Linked DNA regions of Homo sapiens: region 2 is linked to region 1. The links come from fine-mapping of genetic effects on gene expression. A gene starts in region 1. The other region holds a variant in brackets. All regions are shown on one strand. Distances are between the middles of the regions.

Evidence for each region. PIP is the estimated chance that this variant, and not a neighbour inherited with it, causes the effect. A credible set is the group of variants that fine-mapping cannot tell apart.
Region 2: its variant is the best candidate, but not a certain one, in a credible set for the expression of ROBO1 in thyroid (GTEx, PIP 0.63).

Annotation. Positions count from the first base shown.
Region 1 is chr3:79,765,324-79,769,721 of GRCh38, forward strand. ROBO1 (roundabout guidance receptor 1) reads right to left here and starts at 2,675. Exons shown (of 31, transcript NM_002941.4): 1 at 2,429-2,675.
Region 2 is chr3:78,776,923-78,781,320 of GRCh38, forward strand. All of the region lies in intron 4 of ROBO1 (roundabout guidance receptor 1), which reads right to left. Among named protein-coding and RNA genes, the nearest start is that of MIR3923, 730 kb to the right of the region's middle. The variant C/T (reference allele first, on the strand shown) is at 2,424.

The DNA of each region.
Region 1 (4,398 bases):
GAAACAAAGTCATCTTACCAACTGGATATCTGCTCCGAGCTGCTGCTGCTTCCTCTTCCTTTTTTTGGGGGGTGGGGGCCGATTTTGGAAGGGCAAATATTGATGGAACATCTACCAACACTGCCTCTTCCCTTTAACAAAATCAACATGATGCATGCTTACAGATTGCCTTTGAAAGTTACCAGTGCCTCCTCAAGATATAGTAGAGAAGCAGGTTTTAAGGTGTCAGACTGAGGCTTTCAAAATAATAGCTGCTAGGAGAATACAAGTTTGGGCCTGAAAACCCAGTTATGAGGCTTCCAAATAAATCAGTGGATTTTCAACTTTTTTTTGTAATTATTATATCCTAGTTCCCAAACAACCACAGTAAAGGAGGCACATGGAAAGCGAGGAAAAAATGAAATGGCATTGTCTTCCCCCAGGTGCTCAATCAGTATATTTCCTTTGATGTGTAGCCTTCAAGTAACTGACAACCCCAAGTGGCCCATTCTATAGGGTCCTGCATCTACGCTCCTTCCTCTGTGCGCTCAGCCCGGGTTGACAAGCAACCTCCAAATTAAACAACCTCCCACCACTACTTGGAAACAGACAACCATCTCTTAACAGGCCTCTGTAACACACAGCTTGATGAAAATCACTTACACAGGGCAGATGACACAGAGGAGTTTACAAGGTCGGGGCACTCCTTGGCGGGGCGTGAAAGGGTGGGAGGTGCTGAGGTCAGGGTTAAACTACCCTGTGAAATGAGCCTCCTGCCCTGCCCTTTCCTCCCTTCATCTATAGAAGGAGCCTCCAGTGAGTTCCTGCGTCTGGAAATCTGCCCCCTTTAGTGCCGCAGACAGGCCAGGGACAGCATTTCAAAGCTCCTCTAAATCAATCCACTTAAAAGAGCCCAGAAAAGCCTGACCATTGACCATAATTGCCCTAAATTGCTTGTTTTCCTTCCCCTCTTGCAGCCTCATCAACATTTCCCTTCTTTCCCCCTTCGTGTCCTTTTTTCTTGGGGGCGCAGGTCCTCTAGATGCTTGGGGTGCACACTAAGGATATTTGAGTAGTGGGAGCTCCGACTCGAGGCAGGAGTGGGATGTCTTAGCATTCCGTCTCCCCCACCCCACCCATCTGCGTGGGACACAGTGACTCCTAGAAGGGTATCCCAGGATTTTAGCGGCCAGGTGTGAGCGCCCTCCACGCGGTCCTCCGAGACCTCAGGGCGCGTGGCAACTGGGCAGAAGCCGTCTCTGCAGCGCCGCTGCCCCGGGTGGAGCGGCAGCCCAGGCTGCAGCAGTGGGGTTGCCACGCCGAGTTTTCCGCATCGGCCGCCCGCAGGGCTCGCCTGCTTCTCCCCATTGTGTTCTCAGAGCTGTGGGACCCAGCCGCGCGCGCAGCCGCACCCGCGCCAACGCTGGAACCGAAGGCTCATGGAAGCGGGGCTGGCAAGATGGGGCAGGGAGAAGGAGCAAGAAGGGGCCCCAGAAGGGCACGGCGTTTCATCAATAATGCAGAGGCTCCTGGACCTCCCTGCAATACGTTTTCCAGCTAAACGCCACCAACTGGAGCGCTTCCTGGTTCGTCCCACTCGTGTGGTTTTTGTGTGTGAAAGATGGGACGCACCTTTTTCATTCATCTGTCTTCTCTCATTCTTCCTCCTTCCCTCCCTCATTTCCTCCCTCAAAGTCCCCGCTGGCTTAGCTTTAAGCTCTCGTCTTCACATCAGCACCATGTTTTCAAGCAAAATCCTGCAGGTTGGAAATGCAAGTGTCAAAAGTCCCCACTGCCTACATACCGCCAAGAGTTTACCAAAATCCACCTAGTAACGCTTATTTTCAAAGCCCCCACGCGCATCCATTCCTGGAGAATGCTTTCAAAGTTTGGAAGCTCCCTGCAGCCTGCCCGTGTCTATGCCTCAGTCAGCTCACATCACGAACAACGGTGCGGTCAGCGGCACTGAGATTAGGCTGCAAAGTTGCCCGGCCCCAGCCCACTACACCGCTGATGCTCGCCGCATCCCTAGAGCAAATTCCGCTGTGTGCCCCCAAGAAGCCAAAAGCGGCACGAAACCTACTCCAACAAGGGTTAGCCCAGCCACACACACAACAAACAAATTCCAAAACTTCTTTGTTAAGCAGCCGCAGCCTACCTGGAACGGACACTCTGCACAACTGGCAAGGAAGAAACAAACATCGCATCCCTGCAGGAAAACTTGTTGAATCCCTCCCGATCGCAAGGCTGCAATTTCCGATTTAGCCTGAAGGTTTTTGATTCTACCCCAAAACACCCTGGCGCATCAGCCACAATTTCTGGATAAACTGCAGAGTCCTCTCGGCAACCATTCTGCACTCCAACAACCACTAGTGTAAAACCCAGCGTGTCCCCTTTTACAAATCAAAAGCCAGCTGTCACTTCCCTTGCAACCATTTCCGAGACTTACCCTTCCATAAGACTGTTTTCAGCAATCTAGAGGCTCCGTAGTGCAGACGCAGCCCTGCAACTTTGCTGTGCACTGAGACCTTTCCGAGTTTAAACCAAGCGAAAGGTGACAGACTTTTAAACCTAAGAGTGGGGAAATAGGGAGAGAGTGAAGTCGGGTTTCTTCTCTGTATCAGCACCCTGGAAAAATTCAATCCTTCTTCAGTAGAGAATTCTTTCAAACCCGTTATCTGTATTACTATTAATGCGCAGAGCAGAAGGCATTGCATACAAATAGGTCCAAGTGTGCGCTTCTATTGGTGGCTGCGGAGGCCCCTGGGTCCTACTGCTCCGGTCTAAACTACACAGCAACACTAGGCACGCAGCTTTGGAGACGCCGAGGGGAAAATGGATTTAATTGATTCGTTACCTCTGGTATTGTAATGCCTGCTGCGATGTTTAACCGAGGGGGGAGGAAAAAAAAAAAAAAAAACCCTTACATTTAACTCCTGTCATGTGATCTATCATTCCATAGCTGCTTTTAATTGTCTGTGTGGAGTGGCTTTGATCATACAAAGGATTTTAAAAGAACATTTTCGAAGGAAAATTCACACAGACACTTTTGGCAGGAAAACCCTCTTTTGCTCTCTATTATGCATTATTCTCATATAAATCCAGGAAATTTTATATAATCAAATACTTCTGCACTTCACGTAGGTACACACAACACCCAATTGTATTTACAATTCATAGCTACTACAAATAAAATACCTTACATGGGTAGTAGATAGTAGAAGCTAAAATATGAGTCTACCAATTATAAAACACGGGTTATATTAGTCAAATGCTACAGAAAAAATTCCATCAATGACAATGGCGTCAGCATCATTTTTACTTCGCAAAATTAGAAATTCAAAAATATTTTCCTTGTAAATATTGACATAAAGATATAAATCAACATAAAGGTATTATAATGTCACAGTATGTCAAGCATTTACTATTAATTGCTACATTATCTTTTTACAGTTTCTCTCTTAGCAAGTTCATTAGTAATGCAAATTGGCATAACAAGGAGATTTAAAGTGAGGCCGACCTGTGGTGACTAGCAATTTGAAATATTGTAATAGTGTGCAAAATCACTTTAGTTCATCATCGGTAAAGCCAGTTATTTTAAGAATTAGAATATTAAATGCTGAATCTTAATATATATTAATTTGAAGTCTTAAACATGCTGTTTTCTTTGACCTTTAATTTTGTGGAGGAAAAGAGAAATCCTTATTTAAACTAAAATGACATAGACTTTCCACAAAATCCTAGATACGATATTTACTGATATTATAATTTAGGAAGTAACATAATTTTATTGTCTTTGATGTAAATAATTGTGATAAATTCCAATTTAATTACAAAATTATTACATATATGTAATGTACAACTGAATGAACATTGTTGGAAAGGGCCACTCTGGATAAGGTTAACATCAACCAACCTATAAATTCACTACCTATGTGTAAACTAAATAAATGAAAACACAATGCAAAAATACAACAGACTCGAGATCTTATTCCAAATACATGTAAAGCATTTGAATTTATGTAGTGTGTGCTACAATCCCTCTTCATTTCCGTAACTCTTTCCCTTTACAGCCCCTTCCCTTCCCCCAATCAGTAACCCTTGACAACAGAAGTGTTAACTTCAAGTCCAGGTTGCCTTTGCTGCCTTCCAGACCTAACTTACAGATTGCATCCTTGTAGGAAACAGAGTTAACTCTTACACGACTGAGAGGTGAAAGAAGAGAGTTTCTTTCAGGGATTAGAAAATCCAGTATTTTTATGTGTATTTGCAAAGTTTGCACCAAACACATATTTTTAAAAATATCCATGATCACTAATTCAGAGTGAAAAGATGTGATCATTGGCATTGTATCAGAGTCAATTTGCTGTATATATCCATTGCTATTGTGTCACTGAAATAGCTTTTGAATAACTTTTA
Region 2 (4,398 bases), 990 kb before region 1:
ACTTAAAAAGGTGCCCAGTACACTGAGTAACACCTAGGACTATTAGCTTTTATGGTTAACAATATAGTTGCATGATCTGCATAAGAAATATTTGTGGATGTCATCTCTATAATAATTACTACTATTATTAACTCCATTGGGTATTTGGTTAGATTGAACTGGACCCCCAAGAGATTGACTATCCTTAAGTGGATGGAAAGTTTATGCCAAACTGAATAGCAAACTTCTGAAATATGCTAACTTAATTAGAATACAGATAAATTACAGGAACAGACATCTTTGGTTACTAATTAAAACAGTACCAATAATATCTGAATGTAAATAAGCTAACTTATTTGATTCCACTCACAAACATTAACTTCTGATGACCAGAGGAAGGTTCAAAGACAGTATACAGCTAGTGATGTCAATTTAAAGACGATTTTGAAACAAGAGACAAAAGACATGCTGAGACAGAAGTATGGGCTCATGAAGATGTACTTTGTCTGTTTCACAATTTCCTTATGATATATATACAACCAATGCCATCTGGTACCCCATCATTTTTCTTATCACTATTGCTATTGAAACTGATAGATATAATGTAAACCAGCATTCTTCATATTTGTTTGTAGTTGAAAGTCATGGGAAATGGTTGTAAACAAATCAAAATCACACCCACTGTTTGAGCACATACCTTATCCTTTTAAGTGAGTATTTTTATGTAACAGCATTTAATTTAAAGGAGGAGCCAAAACAAAAAGTTTGGCTTACTTTGTATTATAAATTTTTTCACATTGATTTTGTATCCTGAGACTTTGCTGAAGTTGCTTATTGGGTTAAGGAAATATATAAATATACAATCATGCCATCTGCAAACAGAGACGATTTGACTTCCTCTCTTACTATTTGAATACCCTTTATTTCTTTCTCTTGCCTGATTGCCCTAGCCAGAACTTCCAATTCTATATTGAATAGGAGTGGTGAGAGAGGGCATCCTTGCCTTGTGCCGGTTTTCAAAGGTAATGCTTCCAGCTTTTGTCCATTCACTATGATATTGGCTGTGAGTTTGTCATAAATAGCTCTTATTATTTTGAGATATGTTCCATCAATACCTATTTTATTGAGAGTTTTTAGCATGAAGGGTGTTGAATTTTATCGAAGGCCTTTTCTGCATCTATTGAGATAATCATTTGGTTTTTGTAATTGGTTCCGTTTATGTGATGGATTATATTTATTGATTTGTGTATGTTGAACCGGCCTTGCATCCCAGGGATGAAGCTGACTTGATCGTGGTGGATAAGCTTTTTGATGTGATGCTGGATTGGGTTTGCCAGTATTTTATAGAGGATTTTCGCATCGATGTTCCTCAAGGACGTTGGCCTGAAATTTTCTTTTTTTGTTGTGTCTGTGCCAGGGTTTGGTATCAGGATGATGCTAGCCTCATAAAATGAGTTAGGGAGGAGTCCCTCTTTTTCTATTGTTTGGAATAGTTTCAGTGGGAATGGTACCAGCTCCTCTTTGTACCTCTGGTAGAATTCAACAAAAATCACAAGCATTCCTATACACCAGTAATAGACAAACAGAGAGCCAAATCATGAGTGATCTCTCATTCACAATTGCTACAAAGAGAATAAGATACCTAAGAATACAACTTACAAGGGACATGAAGGACCTCTTCAAGGAGAACTACAAACTACTGCTCAAGGAAATAAAAGAGGACACAAATGGAAAAACATTCCATGCTCATGGATGGGAAGAATCAGTATTGTGAACATGACCATAATGCCTAAAGTAATTTATAGATTCAACGGTATTCCCATCAAGCTACCACTGACTTCCTTCACAGAATTAGAAAAAACTAAATTTCATATAGAATCAAAAAAGAGCCCACATAGCCAAGACAATCCTAAGCAAAAAGAACAAAGCTGGAGGCATCATGCTATCTAACTTCAAAATATAGTACAAGGCTACAGTAACCAAAACAGCATGGTACTAGTACCAAAACAAATACCTAGACCACAGAACAGAGGCCTCAGAAATAACGCCACGCATCTACGACCATCTGATCTTTGACAAACCTGACAAAAACAAGCAATGGGGAAAGGATTCCCTATTTAATAAATGGTGCTGGGAAAACGGGCAAGCCATATGCAGAAAACTGAAACTGGACCCCTTCCTTACACCTTATACAAAAATTCATTAAAGATGGATTAAAGACTTAAATGTAAAACCTAAAACCATAAAAACCCTAGAAGAAAATGCAGGCAATACCATTCAGGACATAGGCATGAGCAAAGACTTCATGACTAAAACAACAAAAGCAATGGCAACAAAAGCCAAAATTGACAAATAGGATCTAATTAAATGAAAGAGCTTCTGCACAGCAAAAGAAACTATCATCAGAATGAACAGGCAACCTACAGAATGGGAGAAAATTTTTG[C/T]AATCTACCCATCTGACAAAGGGCTAATATCCAGAATCTACAAAGAACTTACACAAACTTACAAGAAAAAAGCAAACAACCCCATCAAAAAGTGGGCAAAGGATATAAACAGACACTTCTCAAAAGAAGGCATTTATGCAGCCAACAAACATATGAAAAAAAGCTCACCATCACTGGCCATTAGAGAAATGCAAATCAAAACCATAATGAGATGCCATCTCACGTCAGTTAGAATGTTGTTCATTCAAAAGTCAGGAAACAACAGATGCTGAAGAGGATGTGAAGAAATGGGAACGCTTTTACACTGTTGGTGGGAGTGTCAATTAGTTCAACCATTGTGGAAGACTGTGGCGATTCCTCAAGGATCTAGAACCAGAAATACCATTTGACCTAGCAATCCCATTACTGGGTATATACACAAAGGATTATAAATCATTCTACTATAAAGACATATGCACACATATGTTTATTGCAACACTGTTCACAATAGCAAAGACTTGGAACCAACCCAGATGCCCATCAATGATATACTGGATAAAGAAAATATGGCACATATACACCATGGAATACTATGCAGCCGTAAAAAAGAATGAGTTCATGTCCTTTGCAAGGACATGGATGAAGCTGGAAACCATCATTCTCAGCAAACTAACACAGGAACGGAAAACTGAACACCACGTGATCTCACTCACAAGGGGGAGTTTTACAATGAGAACACATGGACACAGGGAGAGGAACATCACACACCAGGGCCTGTTAGTGGGTTGGGGGCTTAGAAGAGGGATAGCATTAGGAGAAATACCTAATGTAGATGACAGGTTGATGGGTACAGCACACCACCATAGCACGTGTATACCTGTATAACAAAGCTACATGTTCTGGACATGCATCCCAGAATTTAAAGTATAAAAAAAAATTCACATATGTTAGTCTTATTAACTGAGACTGCATGCCACAGCTACGTGTTAAAGCAGCATATTACAATAAGACGCAATTTCCAAAATTCAAAATACCTTAGCCAATAAAGAAAATACTAACAATAAGTAATCTGGGCTCAGTTAGAGCAAGGTACAAGTTTGATTTTGCATGGCGCCATTTTTGTATTTCTAGATTTTTTTTTTCATTCCATATACATGCATGCCCTTATCTCTCCTGTCATGTCCCCAAACTTTCCCTGATGGTACTTTCTTATTGTACGCCTTCCTCTACTGCCAAAATAATTTTAACGTTGAGACAGATTGCCTCAATTTGTTTGCTCACCCTGTGGAAACTCTTTTCACATCAGCTTTTACAAATCTCCTAATTTGTCTGATCAGGAAGCCTATTTTCAGGCTTTGTATGAGTTGATTGTTGTGCAGAATTCATTACTATTGACCTGCTTCTTCTTGGCAACTCTAGTCTCTTTTGGTGCCTACCACATTCATTTCTGCTGCTTCTCCTCCCTTATCTCCAGCTGTTCCTTCTCTGTCTTCTTGACTGGATTTTTCTCCGTGTTTTCTTTTTTATTATGATTTTTTAGGTTCTCTAACTCACCCCTGCTTCTTTTTATGTGGAATATTGTTCCTGACTTAATGATACTATTCAACCCCATGATGTTAGGCACTGTCTTTATGTGGGAGTCTCCATAATCTATAATCACAGCTCAGATTTATTTCTACCAAAACCTAAACAAATAGTTCTCACTTCCTTGGTACATAAACACTTGGATACCTCATATAGTTGAACCCTAAATACAAACGGATTTCAGCAATATCACTACTCTAAAACAACAATGACAACAAAACAGCACAGTAACCACTTTTTGCCCTTATCCATTTCCTCTATTAGTATATATAAGTAAGCCAGAACACCCTAGAGTCAATCTGTAATTCTCCTGCTCTATCAGTCCCATATCCAAATAGTCAGATTTATCACACAATTTTCTCTCAAATTAGTCACCTTCTCTCCGACTCCAATTTCACATGTTAAATTAGAT